Regions from separate parts of the Homo sapiens genome. Here regions 1 and 3 are each linked to region 2. Evidence: fine-mapped expression QTL. A gene starts in region 2. Each other region holds a variant in brackets. All regions are shown on one strand. Distances are between the middles of the regions.

The links. PIP is the estimated chance that this variant, and not a neighbour inherited with it, causes the effect.
Region 1: its variant is fine-mapped to the expression of RAB11FIP1 in whole blood (TOPMed, PIP 0.93).
Region 3: its variant is fine-mapped to the expression of RAB11FIP1 in whole blood (GTEx, PIP above 0.99).

Annotation. Positions count from the first base shown.
Region 1 is chr8:38,212,356-38,216,560 of GRCh38, reverse strand. BAG4 (BAG cochaperone 4) reads right to left here. Exons shown (of 5, transcript NM_004874.4): 5 at 3,260-4,205. Among named protein-coding and RNA genes, the nearest start is that of DDHD2, 17 kb to the left of the region's middle. The variant C/T (reference allele first, on the strand shown) is at 2,197.
Region 2 is chr8:37,897,397-37,901,601 of GRCh38, reverse strand. RAB11FIP1 (RAB11 family interacting protein 1) reads left to right here and starts at 2,105. Exons shown (of 6, transcript NM_001002814.3): 1 at 2,105-2,531. The coding sequence starts at 2,161. RefSeq lists silencers at 1,841-2,070, 2,291-2,720 and an enhancer at 3,850-4,205.
Region 3 is chr8:37,844,691-37,848,895 of GRCh38, reverse strand. It overlaps ADGRA2 (adhesion G protein-coupled receptor A2), which reads right to left. Exons shown (of 19, transcript NM_032777.10): 19 at 4,000-4,205. It overlaps BRF2 (BRF2 general transcription factor IIIB subunit), which reads left to right. Exons shown (of 4, transcript NM_018310.4): 2 at 241-300; 3 at 1,721-2,042; 4 at 3,683-4,205. Among named protein-coding and RNA genes, the nearest start is that of BRF2, 3.1 kb to the left of the region's middle. The variant A/G (reference allele first, on the strand shown) is at 2,115.

The sequences.
Region 1 (4,205 bases), 310 kb before region 2:
AAAAAACCAAAAAAAAAGATGGAAGAAATGTAAGACACAATGTTTTAGAAGTCAGAAGAAAAAGTTCGCCAGGCATGGTAGCTCATGCCTGTAATCTTAGCACTTTGGGAAGGCAAAGTGGGTGTATCGCTTGAGCTCAGGATTTCAAAACCAGCCTGGGCAACTTAGCAAAACCCTGTCTCTACAAAAAAATACAAAAAAAATTAGCCAGTTGTGACGGTGTGCACCTGTAACCCAGCTACTCAGGAGGCTGAGGCAGGATGATCAACTGAACCAGGAAGGCAGAGGTTGCAGTGAGCAGAGATTGTGCCCCTGAACTCCAGCCTGGATGACAGAATGAGACCCTGTCACACAGAAAATAAAAATAAAAAGTGATAAAGTTGTATAAATCTCCTACAAAGTACCACAAAAAGGCAAAACATTAAAAAAAAAACAAACAAACAGAAAACATAAGAAAATTAAAGAACCAGTCTATGAGGCCTACAGTCAAAACAGTAGTAATTCTAGAAAGTATTAACAGAGAAGACTGGGATGGAGGAAAGAGGGAAATTAACAAACAAACAAAAAATCAAAAAATTTCACAGGACTTAATGGTATGAGTTGCCAGAATGAAATGGCCCCAGCAAAACGGATAAAAATGGACCTAAACCAAAGCTATTCTTAGGAAATTTCAGAACAAATGGGGCCCCCCCAAAAATTCTATAAGCTTCTAGAGAAAAATATCAGGTTTTATACAAAGGATCTTGAATCAGAATGGCATATGCTTCTCAACAGCAATTCTGGAATCTACAAGACAATATAACAATGCCTTCAAAATCCTTAAGATAATCATTTCCTAGAATTCTATACCCAGCCAAACTATCAATCCATTGGCTAGGTGGAACAGACATTTTCAAATATGCAAGATCAAAATAAATTATTTCCCATGCACCCTTTTCCAGGAAGCACCTGGAGAATATGCTCCACCAAATGACGGAATAAACAAAAAGAGAAAGACATAGGATACAAAAAACAGAAAACCAAAAGAAGAGACAAAAAGAATCCACAGCATGACCCTATGTACTATGCCAGGAACATACTAGTTTTCCAGTCAGAAGGGTTCAGGATAGACTCTTCAGAAGTTTGAAATTGATAAAATATTTATATATATATATTATATATATTTATATTATATATATTTTAAATATATATTATATATTAAATATATATTACATATTTAATGTATATTTAATATTTTAAATATATATTTCTAATATATATTTATATGTTTTATATATATATATTTATTTATTTTTTTTTTTTTGAGACGGAATCTCACTGTTGCCCAGGCTGGAGTGCAGTGGCACGATCTCAGCTCACTGCAACCTCCACCTCCTGAGTTCAAGTGATTCTCCTGCCTCAGTCTCCCAAGTGGCTGGAATTACAGGCATGCGCCACCACACCCAGCTAATTTTTGTATTTTTAGTAGAGATGGGGTTTTGCCATATTGGCCAGGAGGATCTCCTGACCTCAAGTTGTCTACCCACCTCAGCCTCTCAAAGCAGTAGGATGACAGGTGTGAGCCACCGCGCCCAGCCAATATTAATAATTTTTAATCATTTTGTATTTATCTTAATTTTTTAATTTTTTTTTTAAATAGAGACGAGGTCTCACTATGTTGCCCAGGCTGGTCTTGAACTCCTGGGCTCAAGCAATCCTCCCGCCTTGGCCTTCCAAAGTGCTGGGCATACAGGCATTAGCCACCATGCCGGGCCTTGTCTGAGCATCTTGAGAGACTTAGACGACTGAGAGAAGGTCAAATCAGTCTTAGGTAGATAAGCAAACAAAACAAATATGACAGATGATTAATTCCAGGGAAAACAAGTTGTTAGGAAAGGAAAAGTAATCAGGTTACTATATAGCTAAACTCTCCTTAGCATTTACATAGTCAGGATAACGTACAATGAAACTACCAAATAAGTATATTGAGGACAGGTGTGGTAGCTCACATCTGTAATCCCAGCACTTGGGAAGCCAAGGAGGGAGGATCACTTGAGCCCAGCCAGGCATTTGAGACTAGCTTGGGTAACATGGCAAGACTCCATCTCTACAAAAAATTACAAAATTAGCCAGGTGCCATAATGCATGCCTCCCAGCTACTGGGGAGGCTGAGGCGGGAGGATCCCTTGGGCCCAGGAATTTCAGGCAGTAGTGAGC[C/T]GAGATCATGCCACTGCACTCCATCCTGGGTGACAGAGCAAGACTCTGTCTCAAAAAAAAAAAAAGTAAAGAAAACATATATATATATATATAGAGAGAGAGAGAGAGAGAGAGAGAGAGAGAGAGAGAGAAAGAGAGAGAGAGAGAAACCTGGAAACCTGGCCAGGCACAGTGGCTCACACCTGTAATTCCAGCACTTTGGGAGGCCAAGGTGGGCAGATCACCTGAGGTCAGGAGTTCGAGACCAGCCTGGCCAACATGGTGAAACCCCGCCTCTACTAAAAATACAAAAATTAGCTGGACGTGGTGGTACATGTCTGCAATCCCAGCTACTCAGGAGGCTGAGGCAGGAGAATGGCTTGAACCTGGGAAGTGGAGGTTGCAGTGAGCCGAGATCGCGCCATTGCACTCCCACCTGGGCGACAGAGCAAGACTCCGTCTCAAAAAAAACATAAAAACTCAGTTGAAGCTGGTTGAGGTGGTCCATGCCTGTAGTCGCAGCTACCCAGGAGGCTGAGGCAGAAGGATCACTTGAGCCCAGGAATTTAAGACCAGCATAGCAAGACTCTTGTCTCTAAAAACAAAATTTTTTGATTAACAAAAGAAAAACTCAGTTGAAAGTGGTTGCCTTTAGAGAAGGAGAAATGGGGGTGGGATCAGGAGAATGCTGCCTTTCATAGAACTGACTTTTTAAACTCGTAACTTCTACGAATTGAGGTAAACTCCTTACTTTTTTAAAAAAATAAGTAAAAAAAAGTAAAGTTGTAAAAGAAAAGCTCCATCAACTATCCATCCCCCAAAAACTTTTTTATGCCTATTTAATCTACATTCTTCAAAATTTTTTTAACCTGCCTAGCTTTAATGGTATTATTTACATTAACCAACTGAAAAACTGTTTTCAGAACCCCATTTTTAAAAGCATTTAAAAGAATTCTGCACCAACATGTGGAGACACATATAATCCAACCCCTGTATACTTCATTAGGGCTTATTTGTTTAAACAGTTTCATTGGCATTCATACTTGGAACAACAGAGGGTTATTATAAAAAAAAAAAAACATAGTTGTGTTTATCATGCCAGGACTGGGTAACTTTATTCAAGACTTTGACAAAATGATCCCCAAAGTAATATAAATGTAGACACTTTAAAAAGTCCAGATGTGAAATTTCAAGAAAACTTTGAATTCAGTCCAAAGTCAGTATTAAGTCAAAAGTTGAACCAATTCTACAAATCATAAATACTATTTTCCTTCTTAAGTTCATATATTTTCTGAGATAGATTACCAACTTAGTTTTCTTTGATATTGGTATTTGGAATAATTTTAACATGATTTAACATCTTTAAGTTCTAAATCTATACTTATCCTGAATATCTTATTATAGTTAAAAATATAAATCCAGAACTGACAACTCTTCCTTACAGAAGAATTCCAATAATAAATGTAGAAGGATTGAGAGAAATAGAAAATCACCATTAGAACACCACAGTAGTAACTGCCACAAGCAAGATCTGCCAATGGATAGTAAAATGAGCAAAAGTTTAAGCAGAAACGGGACATTTGCATAGTCTCCGGGTATCTCCAGCAAATATTCAATAATTACAAGGAAAACACAGTAAGTTTACAGTAGCGAATCCTAGCAGACACCACCTTAGCATAGTGATCAAGGTTAACAACACCAGAAATACATTACAACATCAGGTATCCCCTGTTATGATACACTGTCACAGACTGGAAGACAGGACGTAGGCATGATAGCTAAATGCAAGGCTGGGTCTTGGAACAGTAAAAGGACATTAGTGAAAAGACTAAAATCTCTACTTTTTAAACTTTCTACTTTAGTTAGTATTATATCAAGGTTAATTTCTTAATTTTGACAAATGTTCTATTGTTACGTAAGATGTTAACATAAGGGCAAGGTGGGTGCAGAGTATACAAGAACTCTACTACTTTTACAACTCTTCTGTAAGTCTAAAATTATCTCAAAAGCTTAAAAAATAACTGTTAGAA
Region 2 (4,205 bases):
AGGTACAAGAATCGCTTGAACTTGGGAGGCAGAGGTTGCAGTGAGCTAAGATTGCGCCATTGCACTCCAGCCTGGGAGACAGAGCAAGACTCTGTCTCCAAAAAGAAAAAAAAAAAAGAAAAAAAATATTTCCAACATACTAAACAGGCCTTTCTCACACTGCAGCTGCCCTCAGTTGCAAACCTGAGGCATACCTCTGTCTTCTAATTTCCTACGTGGTAAAAGGAAACACTTGGTCCTCATGGTTGGCCAACTTAACCTGCAAACTCTTGAGTTCAGTAGCACTTCCCGGGTACCTACTGTGCACCCAGGTTTGTGCTGGAGGCTGTGAAGGAGACAAGTTGAATAAGTCACTACCTGGTCCCTGCCCTCAGCAGGGCATAGGAAGTCAAACCTTGGAGAAATATGAGTGAACCCTTGCAGTGGGAGGTTGGCAAAGACAGTCAAGGGTACAACGTAAAGGCCTGGAAGTAAAAAGTGTCTGGGCTACAGGTTTGTTTGTTCGGGAGATAGAGGAGAATGAGGTAGGGTGGGGTCAAAATGGAGTACCTTGAAATCTCTGTTCAGTCCGAAGGTAACGCGGTTGCTGGTGAGGCAGCCAGCAGGTTAGTGAAGCAATGTGCAGTGTGAACCAGAGGGAGGAGAGCCTGGAGATTGGAGGGACACGAGTAGCCATCCAAGATTGGGGTTCTGTGGATCTGGAAGAATCAAGAGATGCACTGAACAGCTGTTTGGGAGTCAGGACACTGGGATCCCAGTCCCAGCTCTGCAGAGGGACCTTGGACATGTCACTCCTCTCTTCTGAGTCTTTCCTTAACTGTAAAACTTTAAAACCTTCCAAGTGACCTTTCCAATCTGATGACTCGTTAAACAGTTGAGCCTTTGAACTAGGACCTGTGAAATGAAGGGAAGCAGCCGATCTATTAGGCATTTGGAACAAGAAAGGGACTGCCTGGGAGCCCAGGGATAGAGGCAGGGAGAGACTAAAGAGGGCCTGGCAAGGGAGAAATGGGGAACTGCGGGCTGGGGGCCTGCCACTGTCCCGATGTTTGATTTGGCAATCCCATTTTCAGTTCCTCCTTTCTTCCCTTTTTCTAACTCAGCCTCGCCTTATCTGGTGGGGGGAGGGCAAAATAGGACACTCCCACATTGAACTCATGCTCCCCAGGATACCTTCCCCTTTTCCGGCCCTCACAAGGTCCTCACCTTCCTCTGCAGCTGCCTTCCTCCAGAGCAAGGCTTTCCAGCGGGAGAAGTAGAAAGCACAGTGAATTGGGTGGGCATCTTCCTTAGCACCCTCATAGTTACCAACTTTATTTTTTTGAGACAGGGTCTTGCTCTGTTGCCCAGGCTGGGAGTGCAGTGGCACGATCTCGGCTCACTGCACCTCGACCTCCTGGGCTCCAGAGATCCTCCAGACTCAGCCTCCCAAGTAGCGGGGACCACAGGCGCTTGCCACCACTCCTATCTAATTATTTTTAATTTTTTTTGTAGAGACGGGGATCTGGCTATGTTGCCCAGGCTGGTCTCGAACTCCTGGGCTCAGGAGATCCTCCTGTCTCAGCCTCCCAACGTGCTGGTCATGGTTATTTACTGAGAACTCACCATGAGCCAGGCACTGGGCCAAGAACTGTAATGCATTATTATTATTATTTTTTACAGCAATCCTAGGAGGTGATTGTCAGGTGAAGAAATTGAGACTTGATGTTAGGTAATCCGCGCAAGGCCACGACTGGCGATGTGACCCTGGAAATGAGGTCTGACTTCCAAGTCAGTGCTTCGGCCAGCTCCTTCCCGCCGTGCGACCTTTGGCAGCTGGGGACCCCATCCGTCACCTACCACCTCTCAGATTAGATTCTCGATGCGCCCGCCCCTGCGCACGTGATCCCCTGCCTGCCTGGCCGCGCCAGCCCCGCCTCCGGCGCCCGGGTGCCCGGAGCTGCCCGCGCTGCTGAGGCCGGCGGGGCGGGGCGGGGCGGGGCGGGGCGCGGCGCAGCAGGTGGAGCAGGCGGCTCGGGCAGGGGCGTGGCCTTGGCCATGAGGGGCGTGGCCTGGCGGGGGTGTGGCCGGAAGCCTTAAAGTGGCCTGGTCGCCGGGGCGGGCCGTGGAGGCCGCCAGTCGCGGCGATCTTCTCCTCGCTTCTGGAGTGTTATCGTCACCATGTCCCTAATGGTCTCGGCTGGCCGGGGCCTGGGGGCCGTGTGGTCCCCAACCCACGTGCAGGTGACGGTGCTGCAGGCGCGGGGCCTGCGGGCCAAGGGCCCCGGGGGCACGAGCGACGCGTACGCGGTGATCCAGGTGGGCAAGGAGAAGTACGCCACCTCCGTGTCGGAGCGCAGCCTGGGCGCGCCCGTGTGGCGCGAGGAGGCCACCTTCGAGCTGCCATCGCTGCTGTCCTCCGGACCCGCGGCCGCCGCCACCCTGCAGCTCACCGTGCTGCACCGCGCGCTGCTCGGCCTCGACAAGTTCCTGGGCCGCGCCGAGGTGGACCTGCGGGATCTGCACCGCGACCAGGGCCGCAGGAAGACGCAGTGAGTGCGGGCGGGGAGGGGAGGGCCCGGCCTGGGGGCGCGGACCCCTCCGGCAGGGCGGTCTGGGCGCTGGACCCTTCGAGAGTAAGCCGGGCAGCAGCGGGGAAGGCCTTTCGGGACGGAGCCCTCGGCCGGTGCTGGTGTTCTCACCTGGCTTCCCCTTCTGCGGCTGTCCCGCCCAGCTCTGCCAGCTTTGGGTCTTCTTGGAAGAAGGGGCCGTATCTGGGGCGCTTTTTTTTTTTTTTTTTTTAGACAGAGTCTCTGTCGCCCGGGCTGGAGTGCAATGGCAATGGCACGATCTCAGCTCACTGCAAACTTCGCCTCGCAGGTTCACGTGATTCTCCTGCCTCAGCCTCCCGAGTAGCTGGGATTACAGGCGCGCACCACCACGCCCGGCTAATTTTTTTTTTTTTTTTTTTGAGACTGAGTCTCACTCTGTCGCCAGGCTGCAGTGCAGTGGCACGATCTCGGCTCACTGCAACCTCCGCCTCCTGGGTTCAAGCGATTCTCCTGCCTGAGCCTCCCGAGTAGCTGGGACTACAGGCGTGCGCCACCACGCCCGGCTAATTTTTGTATTTTTAGTAGAGACGGGGTTTCATCAGATTGGCCAGGATGGTCTTGAACTATTGACCTCGTGATCCACCCACCTCGGCCTCCCAAAGTGCTGGGATTACACGCGTGAGCCACCGCGCCCGGCCCGCCCGGCTAATTTTTGTATTTTTAGTAGAGACGGGGTTTCACCGTGTTGGCCAGGCTGGTCTCGAATTTCTGACTTCAGGTGATCCGCCCACCTCGGCCTCCCAAAGTATTGGGATTACAGGCGTGAGCCACCGCGCCGGGCCTGGGGCGCTTTTGAATCTGCAGGACGCCCCTCAGCGTCTGGCACACAGTAAGCACTAAGTGAATTTTAGATGAATTCCAACTATACGTGGGCAGGTGCCTTCTTCTTACTAGGGTGGTAGCCCGTGTCTGATACTCGCCTTCGCTTGGGTGGAAGGCCTCCTGGGTATTTCACTGAATAGAAGAACACTTCGAGCCGAGAATGACTGGGCCAGGGCGCAGGGCAGAGGAACAGGAGGCATGAAACCAGCTGACACCCCCACCCTAAAGGCTAACCCCGGGCGCAACGCCTTTACAATGCGGGGTGGGTGGAGGTTGGGGGAGGGGAATGGCGTTTGCCGGCTGTCACATGACTTGCTAACCCCTTCCCCTACCTCATACTTGCCTAGGGGGTTGGTGAAGAGAATTTGCCCCTACAGAAAGAATGTTACAACAGTGTGGTGTGTGCCCTGGGCCCCATGTTAGTAAAGATTTCTCCAGGTTGGAAGGAGCCCGGGTGGGCCCTTGACGGAGCAGAACTGGGCATTGTTTCCTTTTGGAGTTGGTAGAGTTCTTCTCTCTGGTCCTAATCCTGGTGGATGTCTGCTCGCCTGTAGCTCCCAAAGATTGTGTCAGGTTATTTCACTTCTGCAGTAAAAACTGGGCAAAAACCATTCACTCCATGATATTACCGAATTATTTGTTTCACAGGTGTTCGGAAAGGGCAGTGCTTCACCCAAAGGAACGTTCGATTATGTTCATCTAGTATGCCAAAGCTAGCCTCGATTAGCTTAGCTGGTTACTTTGTTAGATCTTAAATACACAGGCCAGTCAGTTAGCACCGAAAGCCTATAG
Region 3 (4,205 bases), 53 kb after region 2:
TGTACTGGAAGGATGACTGGAAATTTGGAACACTTGGAGCTGCTTTAATGCAGTCCTAACCTTTCCCAGTCTCTGTGTATTCGGAACCTCTTGTAGACATAGAAAACCAGATGGGGCCTTTAACTGTGCAGCAGCAGATGCTCAATGATTTGAATTTTGCGTCCTGGTTTTGTGTGGTGGGAGGGCAGGGGTCTGATGAATAAAGGCTAAGCACACTATTTGTTGTTTATTATCTTACAGAGGTAACATATTCCCGAAGCACAGGGGAAAACGAACAAGTTAGTCGCAGCCAGCAACGAGGTGAGAATTGACCTTTTACAACACAGTGGCTTTAAAGAAAACTATCCTAGGCCAGGTGCTGTGGCTCACGCCTGTAATCCCAGCACTTTGGGAGGCCTAGGCAGGTGGATCACCTGAGGTCAGGAGTTCAAGACCAGCCTGGCAAACATAGCGAAACCCCGTCTCTACTAAAAATACAAAAATTAGCTGGGCATGGTGGCATGTACCTGTAGTCCCAGCTACTTGGCAGGCTGAGGCAGGAGAATCGCTTGAACCTGGGAGGTGGAGGTTGCAGTGAGCTGAGATCGCGCCACTGCACTCCAGCCTGGGTGACAGAGTGAGACTCCATCTCAAAAAAATAATAATGAGCCGGGCGCGGTGGCTCATGCCTGTAATCCCAGCACTTTGGGAGGCCGAGGCGGGCGGATCACGAGGTCAGGAGATTGAGACCATCCTGGTTAACACGATGAAACCCCATCTCTACTAAAAATACAAAAAAATTAGCCGGGCGTGATGGTGGGTGCCTGTAGTCCCAGCTACTCGGGAGGCTGAGGCAGGAGAATGGCGTGAACCCGGGAGGCGGAGCTTGCAGTGAGCCGAGATCGCACCACAGCACTCCGGCCTGGGTGACAGAGCGAGACTCTGTCTCAAAAAATAATAATAATAATAATAATAATAATAATAATAAAAGAAAACTATCCTGGTGGCCTAGCCCAGCTTTTCACTTTTCCTATTTTCAGCATTGCTGGTGTGAGGTAGAGTAGAAGAGAATGGTAATTAGGAATTTAAAATGGGGATGGTGGCTCACACCTGTAATCCCAGACTTTGGGAGGCCGAGACGGGCAGATCGCTTGAGGTCAGGAGTTCAAGACCAGCCTGGCCAACATGGTGAAACCCCGTCTCTACTAAAAATACAAAAATTAGCTGGGCCTGGTGGTGCACACCTGTAATCCCAGCTACTCGGGAGGCTGAGGCAGGAGAATCACTTAAACCTGGAAGGAGGAGGTTTCAGTGAGCCAAGATGGCGCCACTGCACTTCAGCCTGGGCAACTGAGCCAGACTCTGTCTCAGAAAATAATAAAATAAATAAAACAAATAGGGATGGTTCTGAGAGAGGCAGCAATTCAGTATAAGGTTTGGGTTTGATCAGACGTATGTTTGAGGTAGCCTCTAAGAGCCTGGATAAAACTTGGGCTTGGCCCTGAATCAAACCAGCCTGCAAAAACTAGTGGGCTGAAATGTGACTTCTTTACACAAATGTTTTTGTGTCTTTAGAATGACTATACCAAGTGTCACTCCTGTCTATGCAGAAAGGTACATAATTTGTGCATCTGATATCTGAGGCAAGTTTAGCAGATCTAAGTAAGTCCTAGCAGAATTTTCTAGGAGTTGCACGATAGCTCCTTTGACCCCTCTAACTCTTGCCGTGGGTTTTTCCTAGGTCTCCGGCGAGTGAGAGACCTTTGTCGAGTTCTGCAGTTGCCACCAACATTTGAGGATACCGCGGTTGCCTACTACCAACAGGCATATCGGCACTCTGGCATCCGAGCGGCCAGGCTGCAAAAGAAGGAGGTGTTGGTTGGGTGCTGCGTCTTAATCACCTGCCGACAGCATAACTGGCCCCTAACAATGGGGGCCATCTGCACGCTGTTGTATGCAGATTTGGATGTGTTTTCTAGCACTTACATGCAGATAGTGAAGCTCCTGGGACTGGATGTGCCATCTCTGTGCTTGGCAGAACTGGTGAAGACCTATTGCAGCAGGTACGTCCCTGGTGGGAGACAGTAGGATGGGATGGGATGGGTCCTTAGACCTGAATCCTTTGACCTTTGGCC[A/G]TCTCTTTTTTTTTTTCTTGGAGTCTTGCTCTTATCACCCAGGCTGGAGTGCAGTGGCACGATCTCAGCTCACTGCAACCTCCGCCTCCGGGGTTCAAGCTATTCTCCTGCCTCAGCCTCCAGAGTAGCTGGGATTACAGGTGCCTGCCACCATGCCTGGCTAATTTTTTTGTTTTTCTTTGCATTTTTAGTAGAGACAGGGTTTCACCATGTTGACCAGGCTGATCTCGAACTCCTGACCTCAGGTGATCCGCCTGCCTCGGCCTCCCAAAGTTCTGGGATTACAGGCGTGAGCCACCGCACCCGGCCTTGGCCATCTCTTTTTTACCAAAGCCCATGTAAAAGGATGTGGGAGAAAGATCTTTAGTTTAAACTTGTACTCATAAGGTTAATATTGTTTTACATTTTTAGAATGCTATAATTTTCTTTTTTTTGAGACCGAGTCTTGCTGTGTTGCCCAGGCTGGAGAGCAGTGGCATGATTTCGGCTCACGGCAACCTCCACCTCCCGGGTTCAAGTGATTTTTGTGCCTCAGCCTCCCAAGTAGCTGGGACTACAGGTGCATGCCACCATGCCTGGCTAATTTTTTGTTTTTAGTAGAGATGGGGTTTCGCCATGTTGCCCAGGCTGGTCTTGAACTCCTGGACTCAAGCGTTCTACCCACCTCAGCCTCCCAAAGTGCTGGGATTACAAGTGTGAGCCACTGCACCCCGCCAAAGAATGCTATAATTTTCAAACCCCTTTGCCTTCACAGCAACCTAATGACTTGGGGAAAATAGGTCTGAGTCTTGGCACAGGGCTGCTGAGTTGCACCACTCATGTTTTGTGCTCTGTGCATGGCAGTTCCTAGAGTTGTGCTGTGCCATGGGCTTTGTGGCTGAATGCCCAGCTCTGTCTCAGCAGGATCATCTGCAGAGGAAGCTGAAAGTATATTAGTTAATGACATAACTGGGCTTAGAAGCTAAGTCTTTTCTAGTTTTTTTAAAGACAGGGTCTCTTTCACCCAGCCTGGAGTGCAGTGGCACCATCATAGCTCACTGCAGCCTGGAACTCATGGGCTCAAGCGATCTGCCCACCTGATCCTCCCAAAATGCAGGTATTACAGGCGTGAGCACTGCGCCTGGCTCTTTTCTCATTTGAAGTAGCTATGTTCTTTTCTTTTTTCTGATAAATAACGTTGAAAGTAGAGGCTGTTGGTGTCAAATAGCCTTGTATTTGAAGCTTGGTTACTGCCTGGCTGGATGACTATGGGAAAGTTTTTTAACTATACATGCACATAAGATGGTGCACGTGCACGTAGATTAAATGAGAACGTTGTAAAGCACTCAGAATAATGGTGATTGGGAGGCGCCCAATAAATGTTCGTGCTCTCCTCCATCCCTCCACCTTCCCCTAACAAGCGGAAGACGCCCTGTTTTCTCTCACTACCTTTATTAACTTGCTGCCCAGTGAGCTTGAGTATTCCTGAGGGCAGAATAGCTTCCCCATCTTGAGTGGGCTGTCTTTCCTCACTGTGGGAGAGCAGCCCCTATATCATTAAGATCCAACCCTCATTTTGGTTATTTCAGCTTCAAACTGTTCCAAGCTTCACCTTCTGTGCCAGCCAAATACGTGGAAGACAAAGAGAAGATGCTGTCTCGAACAATGCAGTTGGTGGAGCTGGCAAATGAGACGTGGCTGGTGACCGGGAGGCATCCCTTGCCCGTCATCACTGCTGCGACTTTCCTGGCTTGGCAGTCGCTGCAGCCTGCAGATCGGCTTTCATGTTCCCTTGCCCGATTTTGTAAATTGGCAAATGTGGACCTGCCCTACCCGGCGTCCTCCCGCCTGCAGGAGCTGCTGGCTGTGCTGCTGCGGATGGCTGAGCAGCTGGCCTGGTTACGAGTTCTGAGACTTGACAAACGGTCTGTGGTGAAGCACATCGGTGACCTTCTCCAGCACCGCCAGTCACTGGTCCGCTCTGCCTTTCGGGATGGGACAGCAGAAGTGGAGACCCGAGAGAAGGAGCCACCGGGGTGGGGACAGGGGCAAGGAGAAGGGGAGGTGGGAAATAATTCCTTAGGTTTACCCCAGGGGAAGCGGCCGGCCAGT